Regions from separate parts of the Homo sapiens genome. Here region 2 is linked to region 1. A link means that fine-mapping ties the variant in region 1 to the expression of a gene that starts in the linked region. Tissue or cell type: hippocampus. Region 1 holds a variant in brackets; the other region holds the start of a gene. All regions are shown on one strand. Distances are between the middles of the regions.

Evidence for each region. PIP is the estimated chance that this variant, and not a neighbour inherited with it, causes the effect.
Region 2: TBC1D9B starts here. The variant in region 1 is fine-mapped to the expression of TBC1D9B in hippocampus (GTEx, PIP above 0.99).

What each region holds. Positions count from the first base shown.
Region 1 is chr5:180,095,656-180,103,755 of GRCh38, reverse strand. RASGEF1C (RasGEF domain family member 1C) reads left to right here. Exons shown (of 14, transcript NM_175062.4): 13 at 1,613-1,685; 14 at 2,231-2,961. The coding sequence ends at 2,255. Among named protein-coding and RNA genes, the nearest start is that of RNF130, 28 kb to the right of the region's middle. The variant A/C (reference allele first, on the strand shown) is at 4,127.
Region 2 is chr5:179,904,795-179,912,894 of GRCh38, reverse strand. It overlaps TBC1D9B (TBC1 domain family member 9B), which reads left to right and starts at 4,998. Exons shown (of 21, transcript NM_015043.4): 1 at 4,998-5,191; 2 at 8,083-8,100. The coding sequence starts at 5,074. It also overlaps a transcript of RNF130 not described here. RefSeq lists silencers at 4,847-5,006, 5,077-5,136, 5,147-5,286, 5,337-5,386 and an enhancer at 5,267-6,044.

The DNA.
Region 1 (8,100 bases):
AATAACAATGAAAGGATGTTCACTCTTCCCCACTCTTAGTCATCATAGTAATGGAAGAACTAGTTAGTGCGATAAGGCAAGAACAGGAAGTAACACACAAATCAGAAAGAAAAATTAACACTGTCCCTATTTGCAGATGATGAGGAAAAAAAATCCCAAAGAATCTACAAAAACCCCTAGAACTAATAAGGGAGTTCAGCAAGGTTGCAGGATACAAGACACACATGCAAAAATCAACCATGTTTCTACGTATGAGCAATAAACATGTGCACGCTGAAACTAAAATGATAATACCATTTACAGTCACTCACATGAAATATGTAGGTGGAAATGGAACAGAACACGCACAGGACGTGTACGCTAAAAGTTAATGCTGATGTGCCGGGTGCGGTGGCTCACGCCTGTAATCTCAGCACTCTGGGAGGCCGAGGCGGGCGGATCACAAGGTCAGGAGATCGAGACCATCCTGGCTAACACGGTGAAACCCCATCTCTACTAAAAATACAAAACATTAGCCGGGCGTGGTGGTGGGTACCTGTAGTCCCAGCCACTCGGGAGGGTGAGGCAGGAGAATGGTGTGAACCCGGGAGGCAGAGCTTGCAGTGAGCCGAGATCGCGCCACTGCACTCCAGCCTGGGCGACAGAGCGAGACTTCTGTCTCAAAAAAAAGTTAATGCTGATGAAAGAAATCAAGAAAGATGTAGATAAATGGAGACATAGGATGTTCTCGAACGCAAAGACTGCATAGCAAAGGTATTAATTCTCCTCCCAGAATTTAAGTACAGGTTTAATGCAATTCCTACCCAAATCCCAGCAAGACTCTTTGTAAGATAGAGACGAGATTCTCCTAAAATTTGTATCGGAAGTCAAAGGAACTAGAATTGCTAAAACAATCTTGAAAAGGATTCGTGGGAGGAATGAGTCTGCTTGATGTTAAGGCTGATATGATAGCGCTATGGTCGTTAAGACAGCACAGTATTAGGGGAGGGATGGACGCATGAATCAATGGGACAGAATAGAGAACCCAGAAAGAGACCCACGCAAATATACCAGGTGATTTTTGACAAAAACAAAACAAAACAAAACAAAACCCAATGGAGGAAAGCTAGCCCTCCAACAAACAGTGCCGGAGCATCCGGACATCCACAGACCAAAACATGAACCCCAGCCCAAGCCTCACACCTTATACAAATAATTAGCTCAGCATGGATCACAGACTAAAATGTAAAATGTAAACCTATACAGCTTTTAGCAGGGAAAAGCAAGAGATAACCCTCAGAATATAGGGCTAGATAAAGAGTTTCTTATTCCAAATATGCCACTATGATATGGCCCAGCCATTGCATTCTTGGGCAGTTAGTTATTCCAGAGAAATAAAGACTCATGTATTTATACATCATTTGAAGTGAGTTTCACACAAAAGCAAAAGCCCTCACGCAAATGTTATAGAACTACTGTCGTTAAGACAGCACAGTATTAGGGGAGGGATGGACACATGGATCAATGGGACAGAATAGAGAACCCAGAAAGAGACCCACGCAGATATAGCAGGTGTAGAACAGGTTATTATCATCAACCATAATTGTGAAATTTCACTTCATTTTCTGTCTAGGTCTTTATTTGGCTTCTTACGAAAGTGAGAGCCCAGAGAACCAAACAGAAAAAGAAAGATGGAAAGCTCTAAGGTGAGTCTTCCTGCCAAGGTGGGGCCTGGGGGCTGCTTGGGATGGAAAGCTCTAAGGTGAGTCTTCGCGCCGAGGTGGGACCCGGGGACTGCTTGGGACCAGGACAGGGCCGAGGGGCTTCAGAGATACCCGGCTCACCAGCCTCCTGGGAGCCTCAGCAGCCCACAGTGGGGATCAAGCCACAGTCATAGGGGTGAGGAGAGGAGGCTGAGCCTGTGACTCCCCCACGGCTGGTGGCTGCCTCTGTGTGCAGTCAAGATGCATGTCCCAGGGACAGGGACTCCCAGTCTATATTTGTATGCCAGACAGTGGGACACACACCCCACCTCCTTCTTGCTCGGCGTGTTAACACGTCCAAGTGGCGGTCGGAAATGATCCATAGCAATGGACTTCGAGGGCTGAGCCCCAGGGATTTGCAGAACACCCCTCTGGGGCAGGAGGCTGGCTCTCCTCAGCGCACTGAGAAAGTGGCTGTGCTGGAGAGCAGTCTAACTGGGGTGGGGAGCTCCAGGCTCTCACCGCTCCCGACATGCTTAAATCTGCAGATCTTCTATTTTGGGGAAGACATGAAAGCGCTGAGCTGAGGGACGAGGAAGAGCTGGAGCCCGCAGAAGCCGTCCACAGCCCTGCCTCAGTGGCCCAGTGGGCAGAGGCCAGGGAGTGCCTCACTATTTTGCAAATGCCGACCCTGTGGCCTGCTGCCCGCCCCCCCCCCCCCCACAGTGGCCATACGGGCACAGGAGACCTTTTATGGGACTTTGGCCCTGGCAGGACCCAGGGCCTCCAGACGTGCGGGCGGCACATGCCTTGGGGACATCCTGCCTTCAGGACCGTGGGGCCTGGTCAGTCTGTCCATCCTCGGCAAGGACACAACACTGCCCCAGAGGGTGGGACCACTGCAAGCTCGAGACCTTGCTTGGTGACATGTGCCACTTTGGCCACCACCCACAGTCTGTCACCACGTGGCTTGGGAACTTCTGGAGCCACAGCAGGCATCACGGTGCGACGTGAGATGCCTGCGCCAGCCCCGAGCCCACTGGCAGCCACTGCCATTCCACCCATGGTCCCTCACCCTGCCCTGCCGACGAGCTTGTCTCTGCAGCCCCAGGTACCCCCTTCCTGGATGCTGCTGGCCCCAGGAGATAGCTTTCCGGTGACAGCTGTGGAACGCGTCAACAGGACAAACTGGACACATGGAGTTACAGTGTGTACACGGCAGTCCCGCCACCCAGCCCCCTTGTAAACTCTAGTCACTATAAACACACCCGTACGCCTATCCATGTCCACCCCACGTCCACCCCATGGCAGGTTTTCAACTCAGCCCGGGGACTGCTGTAGCCACAGTTCAGGCATGGGACTGGGTAACTGTTTCCCATCCAGAGACCCCGTGTCGTGCTTACAGAGCCTGGTGCGTGGGGGATGCTCAGTTAACCTTTGGTGAGGGATACCCACAGCCTTGCCTGGTGCCCCTTGTCTAGAGCAGGGCATGAGGAAGCCAACAAAACCCCCTTGGCCCACCAGCAGGCCCCTCCCACAGCCCCACCCTGTCTGTTTCCAGCCCCTCAAAAACTGAGCCAGCAAGCAGTGGGCCGGGGAGCAGCCGAGACCCCACCTGACACGTGACAAGGTCATCTAGCCAGGAAGTCAGGGAGTGCAATTTGTACCCCCTTTGCTGGTCAGGGCCTGCTGGGTGGCGGATGGGTTGAGGAGGGAGCGCTGGGGTGCACTGACCCACCCCTGGCCTGCTCTAGGCCATGTCAGGCCCCTCAGCGGTGGAGTCCCACTCAGTATCAGACTTGGCTGTCCTGGACTTGGGTCCTATCTGGGGAACGGGCAGAGACAGGGCCACCAGCAGCCGGTGCCTCAGCCAACTCAGGGATTCTGCCTGGTGAGCCAGGACCACAGCAAGGCCCCAGAAGGGCCCGGCAGAGGCATGGGGCCTGCACATCGGGGCCAAGCAGAATCTGCCCTGCACCGCCCCAGCCCACCTCTTCCATCTGAGACCCCAGGGACGGCAAGCAGTGTGGAGAGGTGGGGGCAGGGCTCCCGCAGGGCCTGGGCAGAGCCCTGGGGGCCAAACCCCAGGAGTTTGGGGGGTTCCAGGAGCTGGTTAGAGCCATCGTCTCACCCTCATCCCTACCTGGCACCCTCAGTCCCTGGCACCCCTTGGGCAACATGAGAAAAGCCCCCTCCAGAGGTCAGCGGGGATCGTCCCTGCCTCCTGGCCACACCAGTATGCTGTTCCCACTGCCTGACATGCTGTTCCCCACCTTGTCGATCCAGTCAGAGCTGCAGCCTCAGGTGCAGGGCCCATCTCCCAGAAGCCGTTCCTGGCAGCAGCCCCCAGTGGCCCAGCGCAGGATGGGTATCAGGAGGATGGCCAGGTGAAGCTGGGTGCCCCGAGGCTCACCCCAGCAGGGGAGGCTCTGGGGCAGCAGGGA[A/C]GGAGGCAGCCCACAGCCAGCCCCGTGGAGAAGGCAGGGCTGGGGGCTCAGGCTGAGCACATTTGTGCCTCAGGATCCTCCAGGGGGCCTTCAACCTGGCTCTGCACCCCTCTGAGCAGCTGCTGTGTGCCAGGCCCTGGTGCAGCCAGAGGGCGTGAGCTCCCTCAGAGGACCCACCCAGACATGGTGTGGCTTCTCCAGGTGCAGCCTCGGAGCCCAGGGAGGCCTTGCTCACAGCCACACGGTCTGCTCCTTGGCTCATGGCCCTTCCCTGCAGAGGCGTCTTTGTCCTCCTGTAGTCCTGGCTCCAGCGTCATGGCCAGCCAGATGGGACGGCCCCCAGGGGCTCCACAGGGCAGGGCCTGTGCCTGTGGGGCAGGTGTCAGCAGCGCAGGTGGTGCCCAGGACTAATGCCTGTGAGCTCGGCGTGGCACCAGGTGATGCGAACCCCTAACACCACTGCGAATCCCTAACACCACTCAGTCGAACCGCAGGCATGAGGCAGGGCCTGGCCATGGGCTCTCCTTCACCGCCTGGGCTTCTTCTCCAGGGAGGGAGCTGGGGTGGCATGGAGCCTGCAGACCGGAAGATTCTTCCCTGACTGGGGCTTGCCTCAGAGGCCCTGGGCCTGGCTGGGGTTCCATATTGATTCATTCTCACATGGGGGACCCCTCGGTTCTCTGAAATCCCTGCCCCCCATCACTGCATCACTGGGCACTGCTGCCCACCCCAAGCAGTTCCTTGGGAAATGGTGTCTTGGTTCTGGCTGCTGTAACAATACCAGAGGCTGGTAATTCATACACAACGGGAATGCGTTGCTCACAGTTCTGAGGGCTGGGAAGTCCAAGATGACGGCACCGGCTGATTCAGTGTCTGGCCCCTCACAGGTAGTGCCGCCTGGGTGCCCTCACACGGAAGGGGGATGCAGCTGCCTCCAGCCCCTCTTATGAGGGCGCTAAGCCCATTCACAAGGGCACCACCCCCATGACTTACCCACTCCCCAAAAGACCCCACCTCTTAATACCCTCACACTGGGGATTCTGCTTCAACATGGGAATGTGGGGGTCACCAGCATTAGACCAGAGCAGGCATCTCCATCGTGGCCAGCAACTTAGCCTGGGAACCCAGCCGCATCCAGCCCTCCGCAAAGTCCATGCAGCCCCCAGAGCAGAACCCCAGATAACCTCAGAGGTGTGAGTAGGGCTGCCCCAGGGACTGTCACAGTCTCTTCCCTAACAACTCAGGAACAGATAAACAAACGCTGACATGGCCCCTCATCCTTCACATCCCTCAGGCAGGCATCAGACCTCAAGCCTCTGCATCTCCCAACCCTGCAGGGCTCCTGAGTGGTTCTCCAGGAGGGGCAACCCCCTCACCCCTTGGAAGTGCCCCCATGTACCCACAGCACCCTCTGAGCAATGCCCTCCCCAGTTTCTAGCTCCCGACCACTGACTCACCCACCCATGGGTCAAGGAGGTGAGCAGCTGGGATCTCAGTCAAGAGCCCCATTTGGGATGTGCCTCAGCTGGAAGCTCATACTTCACACCTGGAAACTCAAACGCTTCCCCGTGACACCGAGCCTCAGGCCAGCACTTCACCTACAGCCTAACAAACCCCGCCAGCTAGGTGCTGTCACCATCCCCCTTGGCAAGTGGGGAACAGAGGCTCAGAAAGGCTAAGCAACTGCTCATGGACAACAGCATGGAGAGGCGGGGACTGCAGGGTCTGTCACCTCCACAGCTCTGCTCCTAACCATGGTGTGGGGCAGAGGGGCTTCTGCTGGCCACCGGGGCTTCCCATAGTCACACTCAAGGTGACATGCATCTTTCCTCTGCTCCTGCCTCCTCCTCTTTTGCAGGTCCCTGAGCCCCCTGTGTCCCCTGGTGTTTCAGGAGGACCCTGCACTGTCTCATTCATGCTCAAGACAAAATCTGCCACAGCCCAGCTCCCCTCCTGCACCTGCCCCGGCCCTCTGCAGGCCCTGCTGGGTAAAGCCATGCCTCATACCCAGCCATAGAGAAAAGCAGGCCTCACTCCCTATCACGCCACCCTCCATCCCCAGGCATCCAGGCCATGTGGCTCATGGCCCACTACACAGAGTCTTCAGTGAAAAGGCACCATTTTAACTCCCCAGGACTCAGGTTGGGGTCCTGGGGCCCTAGGCCAGGAGATGGATCCAATAGGAAAACCTCGAAAGGCCTGACGAGAGGCTCCTCAACCACAGTGGGGCCCTTGCCTGTGGCTGGGCGGGGTGCCTGACACCGTCCTCTTCAGCATCCCACCCTGCGCCTCCAGGTAGGACCGAAGAGATGGGAAGTTTAAGTGGAATGAAGGGATCTAAGGCATAAGCTACCCCCACTACAGACCAACAGACCTTTACCAAGTGGGCAAGCTGACAGCAGTTCAGCAAGGAGGAGACGGAAATCCCACATGTCGGGGCAGAGAGCAATGGCAGGAAAGAGCAGCAGAGGCCAACGGTAAAGAACCCCACAGGACAGACCAAGGAGCTTGACGTTTACCCCAAAGGCTCTAGGGGAGCCAGTGAAGAGTTCTGGGGGTGGCAGTAACATGGTCAGTTTTAAAAAGATCTCTGATCGCTTTTGACCCAACACTTCCACTTTTACAACCTAAACTCAGCGAAAAAACCTGAGACCAGCATAGTATTTGCATAATGGAGATGTCACGAGCGGCCTCCATCATCCTGCTCCTGTACCAGCACGTGGGTTTGCTCCTCAGCCCAGCCCAGCACCTGGAGAGCCCAGTCGAAGGCCCTCAACCAGCAGGAGCCCGAACCCTTTCTTGCAGCCTCAGAGGGAGATGGGTGTGTGCTCCTGGCCCTATGCAGGATGGGCTGACAGCCAGGGGCTTGGTGGGACAATAAGACTAGTGCACCCACTGGGCGCGGTGGCTCACACCTGTAATCCCAGCACTTGGGGAGGCCAAGGCGGGTGGATCACTTGAGGTCAGGAGTTCAAGACCAGCCTGGCCAACATGGTGAAAACTTGTCTCGACTAAAAAATACAAAAAATTAGCTGGGTATGGTGGCGCGTGCCTGTAATCACAGCTACTCAGAAGGCGGAGGTGGGAGAATCACTGGAACCTGGGAGGCGGAGGTTGCAGTGAGCCAAGATTGTGCCGCTGCACTCCAGCCTGGGGACAGAGCAAGATGCCGTCCCAAAAAAAAAGGAAGGAAGGGAGGGAGGGAGGGAGGGAAGGAAGACAGGAAGGAAGGGAGGGAGGGAGGGAAGGAAGACAGGAAGGGAGGAAGGGAGGGAGGGAGGGAGGAAGGGAGGGAGGGAAGGAAGGAGGGAAGGAAGGGAGGAAGACAGGAAGGAAGGGAGGGAGGGAGGGAAGGAAGACAGGAAGGAAGGAAGGAAGACAGGAAGGAAGGGAGGGAGGGAAGGAGGGAAGGAAGGGAGGAAGACAGGAAGGAAGGGAGGGAGGGAGGGAAGGAAGACAGGAAGGGAGGAAGGAAGGAGGGAAGGAAGGAAAGAAGGAAGGAAGACAGCAAGGAAGGGAGGGAAGGAAGGAAGGAAGACTGGTGCCTCATGGGGGCAGAAAGCTTCTCAATGAATTACTCCTATTGCTTTTGTGGACAGTTGCACCCCACTATTTAAATGATTTACCCTTCTGTATGAAAATATAAACGAAGGCCAGGTATGGTAGCTCACACCTGTAATCCCAGCACTTTGGGAGGCCAAGGTGGGTAAATCACTTGAGCCCAGATGTTCGAGACCAACCTGGGCAACATAGACCCCATCTCTACAGAAAATTTAAAAATTAGCCAGGCGTGGTGGTAATGGTACATACCTGTGCTCCCAGTCACTCGGGAAGCTGAGGTGGGAGGATTGCTTGAGCCCAGGAGGTCGAGGCTGCAGTGAGCTATGATTGCGTCACTGCATTCCAGCATGTGTAGCAGAGTAAGACCCTGTCTCAAAAAAAAAGAAAGAAAAGAAACATAAATGAAACACAGC
Region 2 (8,100 bases), 190 kb after region 1:
TGGTTTACAAATTCAACCCAACACAGAGTGAATTCAAATTTGCTTTTGGAACAGCCTTTATCTCCAATTAAGTGCAAGTATATTTACACTATGTGATATTAAAGGACTTCTCCAATGACTGGGAGGTACTGAACCAAGATGTTTGTAAAGAAACGGTGGGGTGAGGTGGTTAGGTAGAATATACCGTCCTGGCCATTTCTCTTCCTTCAGGCGAGTAAGCGCTCCTTCAGCAGAAAGGCTGCGGATTGCTGGCTGTGCTCTGTGGACTGGGCCAGTAGGTGTGGCCCAGGTCCAGGTCCTGGCACCTCTGCTGAGTGCCCAGCCTGAGATGACACATGCCATCCTGGAGAGAAGCAGAGAGGGTGCTGTCTCCAGGCGTTCTCCAGACAGCCTGGGCCTGGCTTGCTGAGCCAGCTGCAGGAGGGGATCTCCTGACTGGGGCTTGGGACCAGATCTGCTGCAGAGAGGCAATAACTCTGTCTAAAAAGAAAACTTGTCCCGTGTGATTACAAAAACAGGAAAAGGCTCCAAGCTAGGAAATGAGATTTGAGGTATGGAGAACATTCTCACCTGATGGAAGCATCCTGTTCCTGTACAGGAGGAGGAGCTGGTGCAAGCCCTAGGCCACATATGTCACAGTTGTTTTGGACCCTCCGTAGCTTTTATACTCATAAAATATTAAAGTTGCCCCTTTCATATTTGGGTCATTGAAAGAGCCCACCGTACTCTAGGTTCCTGCTCACTATGCACAACATCTCAGAAGATGGCGTACAAAACTATTTTTCTAACTATAGCACAGGTAATGTGGGGGTGGGGAGGCTTGGGATATACCTAAATGTGGCAAATGATTTATCTTCCACCTTGAGGGATGAAAAGGAAACTATGCACTTGAATTTTAATTAAAATTTTAATTTAATTCATTGGATAGCTTGTGCCAGAAAGAACAGTCAATATTCAAGAAGCAAAACTGACGATTAGCTCAGTTTCGGGCCTCCCTGTCGGGGGAGTTTTCTTGTCTGGAACACAAACACCTACAAGTAGAGTGTGAGCTGGTTCTTGACAATCAGATCTCATCAACCCTTTGAAATGTTCTGGGCAGCACAGCTCCTTGGTCTGCATGGTTGGTGTAAGTATAATCAAGTAGTGAAATTGTATGGTATATACCTATATGCCAACAGTGTACACCCGTATGTGCAGAATTTGCTAATATAACCATTTCAATAAAAACCTATTGAAAAAGCTGATTTGACCACATGGAGTATTGTTGGTGGTGACGTGTATCACTGAGGACTCTCTTGGTTACAAATGACAGAAAACCCAGCCAAAACTGGCTAACACAAAAGGGGAATGTCATGGCTCCCAAAAGCCAAAATGCCCAGGGGTGCCTATGTCAGGCTTGGTGTGATTTCACCCTCAAATGCTGACACCAAGACACATGCCAACTTTGCTCCTCATTGGGAACCCCATCCCCAGGCTCAGGGTGGCAGTAGCTCCATCAACACAAGAGCCAGTCCCCAGGAGGTGGCCCAGGTCAGGACGGTATTTCCCTGGCCCAACTGACTTGGTTGGAGGCACATGGCCATCACCAGCCAGCCCCTGTGATCACAGATAGAATGCACCGATGGCCTCAGCTGGCATGGGCTCCACCTTCACAGCCCAGGAGTCCATGTGTCTTCACCTGACAGACAAGAGCTGAGCGTTCTAAGGCACGGTTCCCACTGCAGAAAAACAAACGACACTGCACAGACGGGAGAAGTGAATGCTGGGGGCAAAGGCAGCACGTGTCTGACACGTGTGGAAAAGCACTGGAGCCAGAGGCCGGGTGCAGTGGCTCACGCCTGTAATCCCAGCACTTTGGGAGGCCGAGGCGGGCAGATCACTTGAGGTCAGGATTTCGAGACCATCCTGGCTAACATGGTGAAACCTCCTCTCTACTAAAAATACTAAAATTAGCCAGGCATGGTGGCACGCACCTGTACTCCCAGCTACTTGGGAGGCTGAGGCAGGAGAATCGCTTGAACTTGGGAGGCAGAGGCTGCAGTGAGCCAGGATCATGCCACTGCACTCCAGCCTGGGCGACAGAGTGAGACTCCGTCTCAAAAATAAAAAAATAAAAAAATTTTTTAAATGGGCAAAGGACATTTCTCCAAATAGACATTTCTCCAGATAAAATATACAAATAACCCAAAAGCCCATCATCAGTCATCAGGGAAATGGAAATCCAAACCACAGCGAGATACCATTTCCCACCCTCTAGAAATGAGCATCAAAAAAAAAGAAAGACAATAACAAGTGTTGACAAGATATGGAAAAACTAGAACTCTTTTTTTTTTTTTTTTTTTTGAGACGGAGTCTCACTCTGCTGCCCAGGCTGAAGTTGCAGTGGCGTGATCTCGGCTCACTGCAACCTCCACCTCCCGGGTTCAAGCAATTCTCCTGCCTCAGCCTCCCGAGTAGCTGGGACAAGCATATGCCACCACGTCCGGCTAATTTTTGTATTTTTAGTAGAGACGGGGTTTCACCGTGTTAGCCAGGATGGTCTTGATCTCCTAACCTTGTGATCTGCCCACCTCGGCCTCCCAAAGTGCTGGGGTTACAGGCGTGAGCCGCCGCGCCCTGCCTAGAACTCTTACACCCAGCTGGTGGGCATGTGGAATGCTACAGCTGCTTTGGAGCGCAGTGTGGTCACTGCTTAAAAAGTTAAACATAGCTGTACCACATGACCCAACAATACCACTCCTCAATATATGCCCAAGAGAATTAAAAACACATATTCACACAAAGACTTGTACACATGTTCATGGCAGCATTATTTATAATAGACGAGGGGTAAACAATCCAAATGTCCATCCAAATGAATAAAATGCGGTGCATCCATACCGTGGGGTACTATTCAGCCATAAGGAGGAATGAAGCATCAATACGTGCTACAACGTGGGTGAACCTCGAACACATGATGGGAAGTGAAAGAAGACAGACACAAAAGACCACATATTGTAAGGTTCCATTTATATGAAGAAATGGCTAGAATGGGAAAAATGTATAGAGACAAAATAGATTGATGGTTGCCAGGGCAAAGCCGGGGGGAAGTGGGGAATGGCAGCTAATGGGTAAGGGGTTTCTTTTGACTTGATAAAAATGTTCTGGAATTAGTGATGATGGATGCCCAGCCTAGTGAATATACTAAAAACCACTACGTTTTGCACTTTAAAAGAGTGAACGTTACGGAATGTGACTTATATCTCAGAAAATCAAAAAGAAGTAAGCTTAGCACGCACATACTAAGTGATCGATAAATGTTTGTTCTTTTTCTTCTTATAAAAAACCATTCTCGAGGAGTGGTCTCCAGGTCAGCAGCATCAACATCACCTAGGAACGAGTTAGCAGTGCAAACACCCTGGGAGGGAGGGGGCAGCAACCTGTGTGGCTGTTTTTTGTTTTGTTTTGTTTTCAGATGGAGTCTTGCTATATTGCCCTGGCCGATTTTGAACTCCTGGCCTCAAGTGATCCTACCACCTCAGCCTCCCAAGTGGCTGGGACTACAGCAGCCTGTTTGAATCAGCCTTCCAGGTGATCCTAATGTATACCCAATTTGAGAACCACTGGGATTAAGGAACAAGACGACTCTTTACCTCCTCTCAGGGTGTTAAAAAGTGCAGTTCTTCCAAATTCTTTCCCTCTAGAGAGCACAATGACAATATTAGTTCAGACTTCCAAGGTGTTGAAGAAAGCCCGCCTCTGCATCTTGAAAGCTGATTCCTATATCCAGCAACATTGAAGAAGACTGCAGATCACTCTGGGTGTCAACTGCATGTACCTACATCCATCGCACCAAGATTCTTGAGTGCCAATCACAGAAACCCACCTGGAAGTCAGGTCCAGCTCCAAGGATGGTTTAACTGCCCCCTTCCCTTTGCCCTCTAGCCAGACCCTGGTGAGGGTTCCAGCCAGCAGGGTGACCCCACATCCCAGTCGACCCCGGACAGGCCCCAGGCCCGTTGTCCCAGGTGGAGTTGACAGCCCCCTCATGCAGAAGGCTGTGTGTGGACTGGCGCTGCCCCTGCAGGCCAACACTGGGAGACCAGGGACCCGCATTCGCCTGCAGCCAGCCTCACACTTGCGCAGAAGCCGCCACTGGGCCCAGGGCCAGTCCAGACCCCATCCCCAGGGCCGGCCAGCCTCTGTGACCCGTCTGTCAGGGGAGGGGCAGCACTGATTTCCAAGGATGCAGCCCGTATCAGGGCCTCCTGGCACCTGCCCTGCGCTGGAAGATTCTTCTAGTCTCCCGGCCCCAGTGTCAGAATTCTGAGAACTGGCCGGGCGCGATGGTTCACTCCTGTAATCCCAGGACTTGGGAGGCCAATGTAGGCGGATCACCCGAGGTCAGGAGTTCGAGACCAGCCTGGCCAACATGGTGAAACCCCGTCTCTACTAAAAATACAAAAAAATTAGCCGGGCGTGTTGGCGGGAGCCTGTAATCCCAGCTAAAGAGGCTGGGGCAGGAGAATCACTTGAACCCGGGAGGCAGAGGTTGCAGTGAGCTGAGATTGCGCCACTGCACTCCAGCCTGGGCGACACAGCAAGACTCTGTCGAAAAAAAAAAAAGAAAAGAAAGCTGAGAATTAGGAGGAACTGCAAACCCTTTCCAGGCGCCCTTTGCAGTGCTAACACGCCCCGGGTTGCACGCGCAACCAGCCAAAAGCCGCCAAACTCTGCTTCTTGACATCCTTCTCTCACACTGCACAGCTTTCAAAACGCCAGAAGCCCTGCTCTGCACAGCGGCTCCCCTGTCTGCGGACTGGGCCGTTCCGTTCTGGACCCAGGCCGGAGGCCGTGGGCTGCACCGCTCCAGGAGGCCAGGCTGGCGCGCGCCCGAGGCCGGGGCTGAGGGGGCGGCGCGGAACTCGGGCCGCGTGCGGGAGCGCCACACGCCCGCCAGGGGGCGCCGCCCGCCCGGCCCCGCCCCGCCCCGGCCCGCTCCGCACGCTCCGCTCCGCACGCTCCGCTCCGGGACGCCGACGGCGGCGGGCGCTTCCGTCTCGCGGGCCTCGGCCCGGTGCGAGCGGCTCCGCGATGTGGCTGAGCCCGGAGGAGGTGCTGGTGGCCAATGCGCTGTGGGTGACGGAGCGGGCCAACCCCTTCTTCGTGCTGCAGCGACGCCGGGGCCACGGCAGGGGCGGCGGCCTTACGGGTGAGAGGCGCGCGGGCGGCCGGGCCTGTGGGCGCCGCGGCTGGGCTGGCGGCGGGGCTGGCGGCGGGCGGCGGGCGGGTCCGGTTCCGGCCCGGCCTCGGCGCGTCGCGGCGGACACGCACGCCAGCGCGCGGCGGGGCGGGGGCGCGAGGCCAGGACCCGGGAGCCGGGCGCGGAGGGGCCGGGGCGGGGAGGCGAGGGGCTGGCGGGAGGCGAATGCGCCCTCGGCGGGCTCTCCTCAGGTCGGCTTGGGGCGGCCAAGTGGAGACCGGCGGCGGCTTCTGCCCGGATTCGGCGCCCGCGAGCCCCGGGGGCCGTGCAGCTTCCCGGGATCTCACCGCCGAAAGTTGGCGAGACCGCCCTGTCCTCATCCTCCACCTCAGTTTCCCCAGGTGCCTCTAAGGGGCCAGGTGACGCCAGCGCACGTTTTCTTTTGCCCTCTTCTTCGTGCCCATCTCACCAAAGTATCGCCCTTTTAGCAAGATCAGAGGTCCCTGGAGCTGGCCGCACCCCCATTCCCCCAGCTTCTCCTCCCCCACCTTTCCTGCTCCTGGCTGCTCTCAGAGCTGCGCACCCAAGGCTGTGGGTAGCGGCACAGGGTGTTCCTGCAAGCTCGCCAAGGTGGCCCTTTGTGGGCCCGGGTGCCACCATCACACAGGATGAAGCTGGACAGGCACCCTTGGAGTCGTGCGGCCTGTGGGATCCAGGGGAGGCCCACAGGCCACTCCCTCCGCAGGTGGTGTCCGGGGCCCCTCATGCTCCAGGGCCTGCGCCCAGCACTGCAGGAGCCCGGCTGGCTCGGGCTCAGTGCCTGTGCTCTTCGGGGCACCGACTGTTGCCCTACAGGATTGCGGTCCCAGTGTTGCCAGGTCGTCCAGTTTATCAAGAGCATTTTCTGTGAATCATCCTGATTTTCAGTGTGAGCAGCTAATAGCCAGATGCAGACGGAGGCTTCTCCTGGGCCACGTTTCTTCATGTGGAAGAGACTGTTCTGTTCCCAGAAACACTCAGTGTTCCCTTCAGCTTCGGGTTCCCTCCCAGTGGGCTTCAAGGATCTCGGGCTCCTGTTCTGGACCCGCCTCCTAGATCCAGCTGTTCAGTCGGCAGCCCCTGTGGCTAACCTCGAAGCTACTGCAAGCCCGATGAAGAAAGCGAGGGACCGGCACCTTTTCTTCCGCCAGCGCGCCAGGGTGTCATCAGCGCGCCAGTGTGTCATATTCGCTGGTGTACTTGAAACACTTGTGCTGTGCTCGGCAGGCTTATGTGGGTCGTCTCATTGAACGGGCGGGTGCAGGTGCAGCCCGGTCTCTGTACACCTCCTTCCTGCGGGCTCTTCTCCTTTCCACCTCACTCTCCGTGTCCCCTGGGACCGAGCTCCCAGGGTCCCCCCAAGGGAACCCTTCTTTGAACCCTCTCCCAATCTCTCCCCACTGCTAGGTTTGGTGTGTCCTGCTGTGCCCTCTGACAGGGCCTTCCCTGTGCCATCATGGGCATCGTGGCCTCCTGAGTACTGTCCTCCCTGAAGAGGAGCAGACAGGGATGTGGTTTTATCCAAGCCATCTATTAAAAACATGCCAACCTAGACTTTTCATTAAAGAATCTGAATAGCTAGCTTGGCCAACATGGCAAAACCCCGTCTCTACTAAAAATATAAAATTTATCCAGGCATGGTGGCACGCGCCTGTTATCCCAGCTACTCGGGAGGCTGAGGCACGAGAATCGCTTGAACCCAGGAGGTCAAGGTTGCAGTGAGCCGAGATGGCGCCATTGCACTCCACCTTGGGCGACAGAGCGAGACTATCTCAAAAAAGTATTAATGGACTATGAAACAAAAGTGTTAAAGTTGAATAACAGCAATAAAAATTGTTCTGACATCAACAGGAAAAATGGTAACAAAATATTTTCAGATCATGCCAAAAGCAGCACTTCGTTAAAAGGAAGAAAAAATTTCAAGTAAAAACAATAAACAGGTTTTTAGATTGCTCGATAATTCAATTAGTGAATCAAACAATGATAAAAGCTATATATTTCCTGCTGATTTGTCAGGAAATAGTGACACTGACAAAGATAGCATTACCTAAAATATAAAAGCAAAGATAGCGTTGCCACAGACTGCTTAATGTGTGTCATCTATCAAAGGGGTATATGTGATGAGAAGAAAAACTTGAAATGCCCTCAAATGTTTCAGTTCAGAAATGAAAAAACTTTATATTTTCCCAAATTTGACAATTCTAAAGATCGACTTCTTCAGTTATGATTTTTTGAGGCTAAAAGAAACTTCCTTAAACTGTCGGTAATAAAAAATCAGTGAGTCATGGCAAAGGGGAGACATTATCTTTCTGTTCTTGATATGGAAAATAATGTTGCAGAATCATTGTCCTGTGTGTGAAGAAGCGATGAGTACAGGACCAGAACTGTCCGGAAGACGTATTTCAGGAGACGCACATGGCAGTTAGGAAAACATTGTGTTGGTTTTCTGGATTTTGTGATATTTCTGATATTGTTCTTTTTTAACTTTAACGTGTAGCTCTGTACTTTCTCGGTCTAAAGCAATACTTGTTTTGTAGTCTAGTTTTGTATACGTAAAGAGGGCTTCCCAGAATTGTTTAAGCTCTGGCCCCATGAAACTTGTATCTGCCTCTGCCTGCAAGTGTTTCTGAGCCAGGAGAAGAAGCAGATGCTTCCAGGAAGAAGTAGAAGGGGATGTTTTTGATCGGGATCAGACACTGGCTGAAGGCCTTTGACCGCAGGGGTCATTCCGGACGTTTCCCTCGTTGGGCTGGACCCTTTGGGTAGCGTCACCATCCTGTCTGCCTCCGGCCAGACTCAGCCTTCAGGGGCCTCAGTCCGGCCCTCCCCTCACCCTCTATGTCTCTCTGCCCTGTTCCCAGGTCTTCTCGTGGGCACCC